Linked DNA regions of Homo sapiens: region 1 is linked to region 2. A link means that fine-mapping ties the variant in region 2 to the expression of a gene that starts in the linked region. Tissue or cell type: whole blood. Region 2 holds a variant in brackets; the other region holds the start of a gene. All regions are shown on one strand. Distances are between the middles of the regions. Region 1 holds the start of IL18R1 (interleukin 18 receptor 1). Region 2 overlaps IL1RL1 (interleukin 1 receptor like 1).

Region 1 (8,000 bases), 20 kb before region 2:
TGTTGGTGGTCAAATAGATGCTTACATAGTTTCTTCATTTTTATGGCTCAGTATTGTTTTGTTTTGTTTTTATATTTAACTTTTTTCATCCACCAACAATTAATTTTCTTGATTGACATGAAGATAGGGAGTAACTAAACTTACTTTCCTCAAATACCTACTAATTACTTCTCTATTGTTAATTAAATAATCCTGTATTTCCCCTACGGTTTGCTGACACTAGCTTATAATGTACAGGTCCTCCCTGAGCACTCTACTGCAAGTCTAGCACAGCATGCTTTTCCAAATGCAAACATGCACATGCACACACACGCACACACACACACATGCTCACACACACCAATGTTCCTCTACCCTCCCATGTTTAGTTTTTCTATTCATAGCACTTATCACTAACTGTCATATTTTCACTTTATGTCTGCTTGTTTCTTTGTTATTTGCTGAATTATTGAATGAATTACATCCATAAAATATACATAATTTTGAATCTAGGTGATCATCTGATCCATTGGCACATCTGCACAATCTACTTTTGAAATGCTTTTTAACGCATGATATCTTGGAAAGTATGTTTTAGCAACTAATGTGAAGTCTAGGCCACCAGCTCTCACCCAAGTTTGGAAAAAAATAATGATGCCCGGGCTCCACCCAGTGGTCTGGAGGACAGACTGGGCATCTTGAGTCCTCAGAACTCCGCAGGTGACTCTAACATACAGTCAGGAAGAGAGCCGCCGACGTAGGGCACTTATTTGTATTCTCAGGAAAGTACATTTAATACATCTTAAATGCATATATTTGGTGTGTCTAAGACATATTAAATATTTGTGCATGTACATATGTACGTACGTGTGTGTACACACACATAACGAATAGTCACAAACTTACCTAATCACCCAAAGGCATGAAGTTTTCTCTAAATGAAAAAAAAAAGTTTCCTTCAAAAATTGGGTGACCTAGGCTTAAGGTCAGTTCCAAGCTGACCACTCTGTCTCCCAAGGCAGCACAGTAAAAAGCCCTTCCAGAGGGTCCAAACAGTCACCTGAACCCCTGGCTCTGCCCAGTTGCCCTTGTTTATGGGTCCCACCCTGAGAAACTGACCTTTCTCTAAAAGTAATTCACAGAAACACATAATGTACAGGGAAAGAGCCATTTCAAAGCTCTTTCTAATGAGGAACCTGAGATTTGAGGAAGTGAAATGGCCAGCCTCAGATTACAGCTATTCACAAGGACACACATGAATCAATGTAGATGCCTCAATATAAATCACTCATTAGCAACACATACAATCGAGCAACTCCTGAGACAAAATGCCTGGATGAAAATCATAACACCAGTTTTTTTTTAATATAATTTTTCTTCTACAGTGTTCCATGCATAGTCGTTTTACTCAGCCTGTGAGATGATAAAACAACCAAATGCAAAGAGGAGAAAATGATCTTGGGGCATAACATACACACACACACACACGCTTAAACTCTAACAAACAAAATAATTTGTGTGGAATCTGGCTTCTCATCTGTAAGGCCAAGAAAATCAATGCCACCTCATAGTCCTTGTCACACAAGTGTCTGTTGTTAGCCTTATGCTTCCCCCCAAATCTGCCTATGCCTGTGCTACCTGGGCCACCCTCCCCACTTATCCCAGATGCCAGGTCCCTAGAGTCCTTTCAACTTGGCTCAGTATTTGCCTTCTCAAGGAAGCTCTCCAACTGCAACAGCCCCAAATGGCACATGCCTATGTCCAAGCCCGTCTCCATCACTCTGCAGGTGTTTCCATCACTCCTGGACTAGCTCCCACTCTCTGGTGAGGTCCCTGAAGGCAGGGACCCTGCCTTTTCTTTTTTTTCTTTTTTTTTTTTGAGATAGAGTCTCACTCTGTCGCCCAGGCTGGAGTGCAGTGGCACAATCTCTGCTCACTGCAACCTCTGCCTCCCAGGTTCAAGGGATTCTCCTGCCTCAGCCTCCCGAGTAGCTGGGATTACAGATGCATGCCACCATGCCTGGCTAATTTTCTGTATTTTTAGTAGAGACGGGGTTTCACCATGTTAGCCAGGATGGTCTCGATCTCCTGACCTCATGATCCGCCCACCTCAGCCTCCCAAGTGCTGGGATTTAGACCCTGCCTTTTCAATCCACATTCCTAGGCCTTAGCCTTAGTTCTCAGCCTTTGGATGTATATTTGTGCAGGGAGAGGGAAAACACTGTCCCCAGAACCTGCACAAACCCAATTCCCCAAATTTACCCCTCCTAGCCCATCCAAGGCCCTGAGGTTGAGAGGTGTGCTCCCAATAGCAGCACTGTGTATGACACAAAATCAGTATTTGCAAAGGGTCTTGAGAATGAAGCAAGGGAAGTCAGTGAAATGAATACAATAATCTTGGATCTCTGTATCTGGCTGCAATTGACACCTCATTAATTTGTCTGATAACTGCGATGCAAGGTGCTGGGCATTTTAACTTCCCAAGGCTGGGCAGAAAAAAGACAAAGGCTCTGGAATCAGAAAAACTGTAGGTGTGGATCTGGGATCTACTACTTAGTAGCTGGATACTCTTGGGTAAATGACGGAATTCCTCCTCCCTTTTATTAAAGCATAATAATAGTTCCTATTTCATGTGGCCCTTAGGAGGATTAAGTGAAAATAAGATATCTAAAAATTTTCTACAGTGTCAGGCACACAGTAAGCACTTAAAAAATGACAACTATTGTTATCATTTATTTCAGTCGTTCTCACCTCTCCAGAAAATAATTGGGGATGTCTTAATTTCTAAAACTATACTTTCAGAGAAAGACAGGATGCTGTCTCATCAATTATTCACACGTATTCACACACACACTATCTCTCTCTCTCTCTTAATTGATCTTGTTTTGAGAATCCCTCCCCGGATGGTGGTCTTCCCTTCCTCTGGGGGGTGGGGAGGGGATGCGGGTGGCAGCGGAGCCCACCCTTACCTTCAGAGAGGCGTCCCCGAGGCTGGGGCGGGGGCGGCAGCTCCTCCTTCACGCCAGGTCGCGACTGCGGAGGCCAAGTTCAGAAAGTAGGTGAGAAGCAGCGATCTCCGCCTCCTGACTACCGTGGAAAGTGAAAGAGAGGTGTGATTAAAGAGATAAGGCACCCAGAGAGGGCTACAAAAAAAAAAAAAAAGAAGAAGAAGGAAAAAAAGTAGGAACAGAAAGAAGAATGTCAGGCGTCTGGCAGCTCCTGGCTGCTAACCCCGGCCGGTGGAGGCTGCAGGTGGGCACTGCCCGCGGTCGGGCGAAGCTCCGGGTCCGGGAGTGTAGCGGTCTGGGGCGCTCTCAGTCTGGGGCGCTCCCTGGCGTAGAATCCTCCCTGACTCGGAGGTCCCGGTCTGGGGACCCTCCGGTCCGGGTGCTCCTCGCAGCCGTGCTCCAGGACCGGCTCCTCCACCCAGACGCCCCGCGTGGAGTTACCGGAGCTACTGGATCGCGGGGTCCAAAGGTTGCTGCTGGAAAACCCAGCGCCTTGCCCTTTTCCCGCGGACGGCGTGGGCCCCAGGCGTCTGGCGCTTCCTGCCCAGCCGCGCGGCGCGGGTCCCGGGAAAACCCGGGCTGTAGCCGGGTGACCTGCGGGGCCGGAAGGGGGCGCGCCCGGGCCGCTCGCAAGCACCCTGCAGGCCGCGGTTCACAGCAGAGGATGCCAGGAGGGAGGACCGCTGGCCGCAGCGGCCGCCCGGCTCTTCAGAGGAAGAGGAGGGGAGGGCTGAGGGTGGAAGAGGGGTCCCCGGGGGATGCCGAAGGTGAGAGGGGCTCCGCGTCTCAAGTACACAAATGCGCCCCAGGCTTTTTGCTTTCCCAGAAGGATGGGAGTTCACTATAGGGAAGTAATAGAGAGGGGTGCAATTGTTGAAGTTTTAATTTTTTTTAAGGAGGCCAAAGGGGAATGTGTGTTTCTAGATTTTTATTTTGTGGCAGAACTGTTATTTAACCAAAGGAAAAGGGAAACCCATAGCCGACAGGCAAAATGTTCAATTGGACAATGATTTTAATTCTTTTTACCCAATTTAGATAATTCACCACATAATAAATAAAAATATGTAATTATCTCAATAAATGCAAATAAAAGCATCTGGCAAAATTCAACACCCTTTCTGAATTAATAACGATCAGAAAACCGAGAGTAGAAATGATCTTTCTTAATCTGATAAAGAACATCTATAAGAAACCTACAGGTGACCTCATAATAGTGAAACATTTTACTTTTTCCTAAGATTAGTAATGAGATAAGGATTTTGGCTCCCACCTGGGACAACTGCTTTGCAACAAGTGAAGAAATAAAAATAAAATTAGAAAGCATAAAGATTGAGAAGAAAGAATTAAAACTACTGGTTTTAACAGAGAGCATAATTATATGTAGACCAACTTTTGAAATCTACAAAAAAAAAAACTACTGGAAATATTAAGTTTATCAAGATCATGGAATATAAAAATCAATAGCAATTCTATATATTAGAGATGGAAACTTGAAAAGTGAAGTTTGTTAAAAATGCCATTTACCATAGCATTTAAAAATCAAAATACCAAAGTATAAATTCATTGGATAATATATGAGATATCTCCTGTGAAAACTACAAAATATTGCTAACAGAGATGAAACATCTAAGTAATAAAGGGATATACCACGTTTACGGATTGGAAGACTTAAGACATCTATTCTCCACACTGTATATTTTTAGACTCTATATATTACAGAATCTATATATTTAATACAATTCAATCCAAATCCCAGGAAAATTTTTCAAAGAAATTAAGAAGCTGTTTCTAAAATTCATATGAAAATGCAAATAATCTAGGATTGTCCGGACAGAGACGGAGTTTTGCTCTTCTTGCCCAGGCTGGAGTGAGTGCAATGACGCGATCTCGGCTCACTGCAACCTCCGCCTCCCGGGTTCAAGCGATTCTCCTGCCTCAGCCGCCCGAGTAGCTGGGATTACAGGCATGCACTATCACGCCTGGCTACTTTTGTATTTTTAGTAGAGACAGGGTTTCTCCGTGTTGGTCAGGCTGGTTTTGAACTCTCGACCTCAGGTGATCCACCCATTTCAGCCTCCCAAAGTGTTGAAATTACAGGGGTGAGCCACCTGCCCGGCCTGTCTGGGCAATCTTGACAAAGATGAACAAAGTTGAGAGACTTATACTGACTTGAGGATTTATAATAAGGCAATAGTAATTATGGCAATGTGATATTCACAGAAACATACAAACATACAAAATAGAAAGTAGACTAATAGATCCACACATATCTAGTCAATTGATTTTTTTAACAAAGCACCATGTCAATTCAGTGGGGAAAAAACAGTCTTTCACAAACATTGCTGGAACAGCTGGGTACCTCTACAGAAGAAGCAGCAGCAGAAAAAAGAACTTTGTCCTTGCCTTGTTCTATATACAAGTATCAATTCACAATAGACCATGGACCTAAACATAAAAGCTAGAACCGTAAATATTTCATAAAAATACAGAGAAGACCCTTGAACAGGCAAAAAATAAATAAATAAATCATGCTCTTGGACAGGCAAAAAAAAAAAATTCTTAGCTAGGACACAAAAAAAAATAGCCATTTGGGACACATTGATTAATTGGACATCACCAAAATTAAAAATGTCTACTAAACAAAGACATCACTTAAAAATGAATAGATAACCCTGGAAATATTCTCACTTTACATCTATCTGGCAAAGAACTTGCATCCACAATACATAAATAATTCCTACACATCAACAATATAAAAAGAAATACAATTTAAATAAGGCAAAATATTTTGCCTTCACTAAAAAATATATACGAATGGCCAATGAAAACATGAAAAGGGCTCATCATCATGAGTCGGGGAACTTCAAGTTAAGACCATGGTGATCTTCATCTAACACCTGTGAAAATTGTTAAAATATAAAGAAACTTGACAACACCAATTATTGGTGAGGCAATGAAGCAGCAGAGCTCTCATACACAACTGGTGGGAATGTAAAGTAGTACAATTAGTTTGCGAAACAATGTATAAGTTTCTCTGAAAGTTAAATATGCACCTACCCTATGACCACTCTTAAGTGTCAAAATAAAATCATAAGTCCACAAGTATGTTCATAGGAGACTCTGTCTCAAATACATATATATAATATTATATATATAAAATATTCTATATAAAATATATATTATATTATATATAATATTCTATATAAAATATATATTATATTATATATAATATTCTATATAAAATATATGTTATATTATTTATATAGAATACTATATATTATATATAATATTATATTATATTATATATTATAATTATAATAATTATATAATGATTTATATAATAATTATATATAAATATATAATTTATATTTATATAATTTATATAATAATTATATATAAATATATATAATATATAAATTATATTATATATCATATTGTATATAAAATATATAATATTATATATAATATTATATATAAATTTTATATATATAATATATATTATATATAATATTATATATAATATATATTATATATAATATATTTATATATATTATGTATAAGATATATTATATATTAATTATATATAATTAATAATTATGTATAAAATATATATTATATATTAATTATATATAATTGATAATTATGTATAAGATATATTATATATTAATTATATATAATTAATAATTATGTATAAAATATATATTATATATTAATTATATAATTAATAATTATATATAAAATATATATTATATTATATATAAAAATATTATATATAAAATATTATATATTAAATAATATTATTTTTATATGTTATATATTATACATTATTAGATATTCTATATTATATTTTATATAATTATATATAATTATATACACATTTTATATAGAAAATATTATATATAATATTATATATAATATTTTATATATAAAATTATATATAAAATATTATATATAATATTATATATAAAATATTATATATATATATAGAAAATAAAGAAAATCTGGCATGTTGGGAACAAGATTTACAACTGACATTCTGCCTGAGGGAATCAGAATGTTCTTCAAGTGACGTGAAAATCTACTCTCGAATGATTAGTTTGCTATTCAGATTATTGACAAGAATGAGGAGAAACAAAGCAAGACAGAGAGAGAGGAAAAAAGAGTAGTGAAAACATCCCACACCACAGTGAAGACAGGCAAGCAAAAGGGAAAAGGGAAGAAAATGGTGGCTGGAGGATGGTGGAGGATTGAGGAGAAAAATTTCTGGCCATTTTGCATCCACCCAGAAGCAGGGAAATGGAAGGAAAGTTACCAGATGAAACCTGAGGCCTGAATCCCTTTAATATTCCTGCTCCTCACACTTCAGTGCAGGGGCATAAGCCAGCTAGGAGAAGTCAGGAAAGCTTCAAACTCAGATGCCTTTGCACATCACAGCAGGCACTATTGCTTCTGGGCAGCCAAGGGAGTCAAACTAGAGGCCTTTCTGGGAATTTTGCTTGGCACAGGCATTTGGTACCTCACGTGCTTCCAGAATTTAGAATTCAGGGACCTTTTATTGGCAATGTGGTCCTCCCTCCACTTGATGGTCCCCTGTACTTTCATAAGATGCTGGAGGGAGTCCTGAAGCGCCTCAGCCTGCAGCATGTCCAGCTCGCTCAGAGCCTCCATCTCAATAAGTATCACCTTGGCGTCGTTCTGGATGAGGGCACAGTGCAGGGCAACCTCCTGCTCGTAGGCAAACTCCTTATTGTGAGTGATCTGAGGGGTCAGGATGAAAATGTGCCGCCTGCTCTTTCGTATGTTGGTTTCCACTGCAGTGACTACATCTAGTCATACAAGAAATAGATCAGATTTCTTATCAGTCTAATGCTTTAAACATAAACATCCTGAACATTTAAAAGTCTTATTGTTATAATCTGGTGTGAGATTCTCTGACATCAAGTCACTTACTCAGAGAAGTGGAAGTATGTGTGGATAGAGAACCCGTTTTGTTCTTTGTGTTCCTTTCATTTG
Region 2 (8,000 bases):
ACTGCAGCTGGTAGAAACTTCAGAAGTTGGCCTGAGGCAAACACACGATTTCTTTCCTGAGTGGGAATACTTTTGTTTGTTTGTGAGTAATACCAATCCACGGTGTAACTAGGTTTTCCTTGTCTAGGACATCTTACAATTAAAGCCTCATTTTCCAGGCCCCATGATTGTTTACCTGCAAATAAAAGATATAAAGACAATCCTGAAATGATCAAATGAAAAGATCATAATTCTTATACTCTCAATATTTTCTTCTAGGATTAAATTTAGAAGCCGGTCATATACTGTGATACCTTGGGAAAGAATAAGTAACTGTTAAGATCTCTTATGAAATGTTAATGAATTAATTTGGAGCTAAATCCCCCACAGTTATCCAATGGAAAAGCAGCCTTATCTATCTAAACAAACTGTGTGTCAGTCAATAAACATCCACAACACTTCCCATGTGCAGGCACCACATTAAATTCTGCTGCATTTGAATATGCAAAGCCAAACTGATGATATATTCATTACAAAGAATTTCTTCTGATAGATTTGTAATGAAAAATGATTGTACAAAAGCAATATATTTTTCAGTTTACAATTCAACTGGAACAACTGGAAGCAAACTGCTTAAAACAAGGTAAATGTTCTTGAAATTATTTAATTTATAAAAATTTAAATTATACTTAGAAGGCAATACTTACTAAACTTTGCTGCTGTGGAATACATGAGAATTGTGAGAATTGCTAAGATCCAAAACCCCATTCTGTTTATCAATCAAGAGCAAGTATTGGTAACTCGTTGTTGAGATTACTCCAGATGAGTCACTGGCATACGACAGTGAAGGTCACCACACATGAGGCAGTTGGTGATACTCTTCAAGACTGAGTTGGGAAGAGTAGCCTATATCTCAACTGAAAAATAAGTTAGACAAAACCATAAACAGAATTTTTATCAGCCATGATTTTTACTTTCTCAGCACCACCCAGGAGAATGAATCAGTCAACACATATTTATTAAGTGCAAAGAGATGTAACAGCAGGTTTCAGATATGCAAGCATTGCACTTATTCCTATGGAAGTTTTGGGTCATATAGCTTTCACAATGATCATGCTATTTCACAGTTATCATGCTACTTCGCAGTTATATTTCACCAGTCTCATGAGAATGTCCTGAAAGAAACTAAATTAAGAAGGAAAGAATATGAGTTTCTATTTTTGAAAAAAAAACCATAAAATTCAGTAGACTTTAGAAAATAAAATGTATCATGTGAAACCACAGACATCCACACAGGCTGGTAGCAGCATGCTCACAAAAATAACTCACAAACAGACACATGTGCAAGTAGTCATCACAAAGCAACTAAGGAGTAGCAAAATCAGAACTAGACTAAAGCATTAGCCAAGTAATTGTCCTATTCTCAACCCCAAACCCTCAAACTTTTGTTCCTGACTCAGCTTGTTCCCAGGAGTCACCAAAGGCTTTCTAAGAGTAGTTGAAGGTCTATGAATAATAATAAATACATTAATTTTTTCTTTCAGAAAAATAATCATTTACTTTCTTACTTCTTTTCTTAAAATATAAGGGGAAGAATAGAACCAACATAGAAATTTACTAACATAAAGATAAACACAATCATGAATTATGAAGACTTTTCTTATTACAAATTTTAGATAAGTAATTGATGCTTACCCAAACTGAAAGACAGAGGGGATGAACTTGGAGTCAGTGACGGAGCTAAGAATAGTTTCCAGTCTTTGTAGGTCCCTCCTCATAGACTACTCACTCTCTTCTATTTTAAAGGGGAGACACTCCTCCCATCCTGAAATTTGATTTGTGGCCAAATCTATGACTTGTTCAAAAATGCTGGTGCATCATGTACTAAGAATTCTTGATGTTGACAAATAAATATTTAAACATAAAAACAACATTGAGTAATCCCTTGAGAGGAAATAATTGAATCATTTCCTCCTATTTTAGAATCAACTTCTCAGGCTGATTAATAACTAATGCTTATTGCCTGTACCCCGATATTGGGACACTTTCAGTTCTAAATGGTCTTGACATCGGGGACCTGGAGGCTGCCTTTCCAGATATTCCTTGACTCCTCATTTGGCAGACACCACTCAGGAAAGCTCCGCCAGCCTTGGCAGCATTGGTGCCAGGAGTTTCAAAAGCAAAGGTGGGGGAGAGGAAATGCGAAGTAAGCAGCACTTTCTGGAACTTAGAAATTCTCTGTCTAGGTTCCAGAATGTGACTCCACCCCATCCCAAAACAGATTTCAGCTCCTTGGATTTAAGTCCCAGTAGGCCTCTCTGCCTGGATGAAGAAAAAAAAAAAGGAGCTTTTCTAGAGTGCATAGAGTGCAGAGAAAGAGAAGGAGAGTGTGACTAAGAAGCTTCCCTCAAGGGGAGTGACAAAGAAAACCATAACCCTGAACTCTAGGGCTCCAGGTAAAACAAACTTGAAAAGCAAAATTTGATTTTAGCTATGCATAGTTGCGATGACCCTATCATGAGTAAACTCAACCTACGTTTATAAGTCATCACATCTCAGAAGGATTCAGGAACTAATTCCAGACCCATATAATAATATAATGATAATAGCTAACTTTTCTTTAGAATGTCCTCTATGCCAGACACAGTCTAAGTGATTTACATGTATTAATTCCTTCATTCTCACACTCACCCAATGTGGCAGGCGCTATTATTATGATGCCCATTTTACAGACAAGGACACTGAGGCACAGAGAGATTAAGCAACTTGCCCATGTCACTTCACATTAAGGGGTGAAGTCAGAATTTGAACTCAAGAAGGCTGGCTCTGAAGACTAGACTAATCACAGAATCCAACTGCCACTGCTTGTGGAAGGTTCAGAAAGGAGTAGCTGCAAAAGGGAGAGTTATCAGTACGTTTTTTGAGCCAGCGTCTTTGCTCCCCATGGGGGCTGGGACTACTCTTGAATCTCTTATCTGTCAGGGGTTTAGTCAGCCTTTCAGCCTGTGGAGTGGCTCTGAGAGGAAGAGATACACAGTCCTTTGACCGCGGGGAGATTGACCATGAGATGTTCGCCGTAAATTAGAGGAATTAGGTCTGCACATTATTATTCTTGACCTACTTGTGGAAGTCCGTTTTATCAGGATATTATTGCAGTTTGGGTGTGAGATCACAGCCAGGAGCCAGCGAGTCTGCAATGCTGCCTGCGATTCCCCAAGTGCTGAATAGGTTTGTTCAATAAAATAACACAAACTCGGAATTCTTTTACATTTGGTATCCCAAAACATCTTTTTAAAACATGTATTAAGTTGGAGCATTCATTCTTAAACTAGGCCACGTAAGCATTAGTTTCTCAGTTTAAAAAATAAAGCTTCCATCAATTTTAACATCATAATGATGAAATTCTGCAGGAGTATTTATTAAAGTTGAACTCTTCCTATAAAATAATTCAGTTGTTCATTTGACAATTAAGACCTTTCATTCAAAGTACAATACTCTGTGGTACTTATCATTAACATCACTCAAATTTTATAGTTACAAATAAAAACCCAAGGATAAGACTGTTTAAGTAATTTGACAAAGTTCACCCAGTTGTGGCTGGGGTTGAAACCAGACTTGCTGAACTTCAAAGTCAAGCTTTTCTCCCCCCAATGTCAACTAAAAAAAGAGAACATTCTCTATACCAGAGATTAGGCTGGTAAAGCTTTTCTTTTTATAATTTGGACTGGGTTATTAAAATAAGCTAGTCTATAATTTCTTCTTTGAAAAGAACTAAATTATTTTGGCTTCTCACTATTCAGGCACCATTCAACATAACAGAGAGTAGTTTATAGCAACTTAAGACAAACTGCAAAAAGGCAAGGGCTTCTAATACATGAATAAAGCAAGGCATTTTAAGCACCCATAAATTTCTGCCAACTTAATCAGAAATCTTCCAGTGTCCGCTTGTTTCTCTGGCAAACACCCACTTTTTTAAGACTTCTCATAACTACTCTCCCTTTTCAGATTAATCTCATAGAATCTAAGCTCATTGAACCAGCTTTTTCTTAATTTTGTTACAGTTTTGAAATCCTGTATGTGCCTATTTATAATCTACTTCACTTACATAACCATTAAAAAAACAAAAAACAAAAGAACAAACAAAACCTTATGTTTTGAGGGCAACAACTAACTGCTGGCATATGGAATGTGACACTCAAATACTTCCGAACTTAGAAGGTATCTTTCAAGACTTCTTCATTTGACTTAGCAGATATCACACTGAAATGTAAAATGTAAATGTCCTAACACACTCCAGAGCTGGCCATGTGTGGCCTGCTCTTACTGTAAACCAGTGTCAAAAGACAGGGAACTTGGTTACATTAATCTTATATGAATTTCAGTGAGTCAGGCTCTCATTCAGTGACTCTCACAATAAGCTGGGGATGGATGTTTTTTTTCCCCTCATTTCACTAGAGGACATCTGGGTATCATTTTTATTCTGTTTTTTTATTTTTTTTTATTGATGAAAATGTTTTCAGGACCTGCAGTGGATGGGGCAGAA[C/A]AAGCATGCCCCTAGACGGCCTAGCCTGGGCCTCTGGAGAATATGCTGGGCCCCCCAGCTCCATTAGCTGTGTAGCTGTGGGCAAAGTGCTTGTCTCTGGGATCCTTCTTGCCCATACTCCAAACTCTAGGCCCACTCAAGCCTCCACTCCTTCCCTCCAAACTCCTTCTTGCTTCACCCAATCCTCCCCTCCAAAAACCAGAAGACCCGTCTGAATGGCTATTATCAAAAACTCAAAAAACAGCAGATGTTGGCATGGATATGGAGAAAAGGGAATGCTTATACATTGTTGCTGGGAATGTCAATTAGTTCAATCTCTAAGGAAAACAGTATGAAGATTTCTCAATGAACCAAAAGTAAAACTACCATTCAACCCAGAAATCTCACTACTTTTCTAAGGAAAAGAAATTAGTGTATAAAAAAGACACCTCTCCACCTCTACTAGTATGTTCACTGCAGCACGGTTCACAATAGGAAAGTCATGGAACCAACTCAAGTGTCCATCAACGGTTGACTAGATAAAGAAAATGTTGTACCTATGCACCACGGATTACTATTCAGCCATAAAAAGAATGAGATTATGTCCTTTGCTACATGGATGGAGCTGGAGACCATTATCTTAAGTGAACCAGTTAAGAAACAGAAAACCAAATACCACATGTTCTTACTCATATGTGGGAGCTAAACCATGGGTACTCATGGACATAAAGATGGAAATAATAGACACTGGGGACTCCAAAAGTAGGGAGGGTAGGGGGTGATGAATGAAAAATTACCTACTGGGTACAATATTCACAATTTGGGTAAGACCAGTCCCCACCAGTAATGCAATATACCTTTGTAACAAACAAGTACATGTACCTTAGAATCTAAAATTTAAAAAAACAAACAAACAAAAACAGAAGAAACCATCATATATTCAAGGAACAAGTGGAATTCACAAAAGCTTCATGTCTCCAGAACAGAACTTCTGATCTCCTCCAGCCTCCTTGCCTCCCTTGCCCCAAAGAAAATTCAGCATCTCCCATTGTCTTCTAATTGTAATGATGACAACTCCATGCTGAATGTTGGCTCAGACCAAGACTCCATTTATTATTGACTCTTCTCTTCCTCACATATTGAACATGCAATCCATCAGGACAACTTATGGTTTCATCTTCAAAGGACATCCTACCTGCAATTGCATCTCTCCATTCTCAATGCCACCATCCTTGTCCAAGCCACCATGGTCTCTCACTTGGATTTTAATAACTGCTTCTAAATTGCTATCCCTGCTTCCACTTGTACCCTCTTAAGTATATTCCTAAAACAGACACTCTGGAGATTCTGTTAGAACCTAGGTCAAATCAAGGGGGCCTCCAAAGTCTTCCACCTCACCCAGAGGAAAAGCCAACGTCTTTACAGAAGCTGGGAGGTACCACACGATGGAACACCACCAATCACCTCTCTGACCCCTCCCCTCCAACCCCGTATCCTCATTGCTGTTCCTTGAAGGCACTAGGCAGACATTGTTCCTTCTGCCTGGACAGCTTCTTCCTGTTACCCACCTCCTCCAAGAGCTAACTTACCTCCTCCAAGTGAGCACTCAAACTGTACATTCTCTGTGAGACTTAGCCTAACTACTCAATTTTCTGTTCTTTTTTTGCTTCTGATTTTTAAAAATTGCGCTGAAATTTACATAACATAAAATTAACTATTTCGAAGTGCACAATTTAGTGACATTTGGTACATTCACAATGTGGTACAACCACTAACTCTATCTAGTTTCAAAACATTTTCACCATCCCCGAGTATAACCCCATACCCATTAACATGAAGTCCCCATTCTTCCTCTTCCACCACAAACCCATAGCCACCACCAATCTGCTTTCTGATTCTATGGGTTTATCTATTCTGAATATTTCCTATAAATGGAGTCACACAATAAGTGCCCTTTGTGACTGCCTTATTTCACTTAGCATAATCTTTCCAAGTTTTGTTCATATTGTAGCATGGGTCTGTACTTTATTGTTTCTAATGACTGAATAATATTCCACTGTGTGTGCCTACCACACTTTGTTTATCCATTCATCCCTTAATGGGCATCTGGGTTGCTTCTAGCTATTGACTATTTTGAATAATGCTGCTATCGGTGTCCAAGTATTTGTTTGAGTTCCTGACCAATCAATTTTGAATTGCAATGTCTCCTCTCCCAATCCCCATCTCCTTAACCTGCTCCAATCTTTTTCTAAGGCATTCATCACTTCTAACATTCTACTTATGCATCATGTTTATTATTTTCTGTTTTATCCATTGGAATATGACCTCCAGAAGGCAATATTATTTTTGTGAGTTTTGTCTATTGATATAGCTCATGTGCCTGGAAGAGCACCAAGTAGGTGCTCAGAAATGTTTACTTATTATCATTATTATTATTATTTCTGAGGCAAGGTCTCACTCTTTCACCCAGGATGGAGTGCAGTGGTGTGATCATGGCTCACTGCAGTCTCCACCTCCCAGGCTCAGGTGATCCTCCCACCTCAGCCTCCAGAATAGCTGGGACTACATGCACACATCACCATGCCCAGCTAATTTTTGTATTTTTCGTAGAGATGGGGTTTCACCATATTGCCAAAGCTGGTCTCAAACATCTGGGCTCAAGAGATCCACCAACCTTGACCTCCCAAAGTGCTGGGATTACAGGCTTGAGTCACCATGCCCAGCCTCAGAAATATTTATTGAATGAACCAGTACAGATGACCAAGGGATGGAATTTGGGATTCAAAAAATAAAGCTTTTATATATGGATCTAAACAGGAGCAGTCTGTCTTTCACCATGCTCTTACATCTCTACCCCGAATATCTGTCTTATTTCTTTTATCTTATCGGAAGATGAGACCTGAGTCACCCTTGGGAGGTCCCATGGGAACTCCTGGGCCGAGAACAGATGGAGCATAGAGAGCCAGAAGAAGCTCTGTGGACTGCAGACACTCAGGAAAAAGAAATGGGCTGGTGGCCATGTGAAAAACAGCCAGCAGTCTTAACAGTTTGCACATGTGAAATGACTAAATCATCATTAAGATCCCTTCAAGACTAATATTTTAGACCATTGTGTAATTTCTCACATACTAATTCCACAGACTTTATTGCTGTGGTCTGCATTTGTCGTCCTTTATTTAGTTCATGTACATCTTTTGTCCTGAGGTCAGTGTAACTTATTCTCCCAGCAGCAGAATCTGCTTCTAAAGCTTCTATGGAAATCTAAAGTCTGCATGGCAAATTAAAGTCCTGGGAATACCCAAGACATGGTTAAAGAAAAAGAACAAAGTCAGAGAACTTACACAACCTGACCTTAAGACTTAATATAAAAGCTACCATAGTGAAAACAGTGTGGTATGGGCATAAAGACAGACATGTTGATCAAAGAAGAGAGAGTCCAGAAGTAGACTCAAAAATATATAGTAAATTGATGTTTGATTAAAGTGCCAACATAAGTTTA

Evidence for each region. PIP is the estimated chance that this variant, and not a neighbour inherited with it, causes the effect.
Region 1: it holds the start of IL18R1, and the variant in region 2 is fine-mapped to the expression of IL18R1 in whole blood (INTERVAL, PIP 0.97).

What each region holds. Positions count from the first base shown.
Region 1 is chr2:102,351,349-102,359,348 of GRCh38, reverse strand. It overlaps IL18R1 (interleukin 18 receptor 1), which reads right to left and starts at 3,553. Exons shown (of 11, transcript NM_003855.5): 1 at 2,949-3,553. IL1RL1 (interleukin 1 receptor like 1) reads right to left here. Exons shown (of 11, transcript NM_016232.5): 11 at 7,312-7,813. The coding sequence ends at 7,428. RefSeq lists silencers at 3,499-3,558, 3,579-3,688 and an enhancer at 3,283-3,784.
Region 2 is chr2:102,331,012-102,339,011 of GRCh38, reverse strand. It overlaps IL1RL1 (interleukin 1 receptor like 1), which reads right to left. Exons shown (of 11, transcript NM_016232.5): 2 at 687-896; 3 at 1-175. The coding sequence starts at 747. Among named protein-coding and RNA genes, the nearest start is that of IL18R1, 21 kb to the left of the region's middle. The variant C/A (reference allele first, on the strand shown) is at 4,523.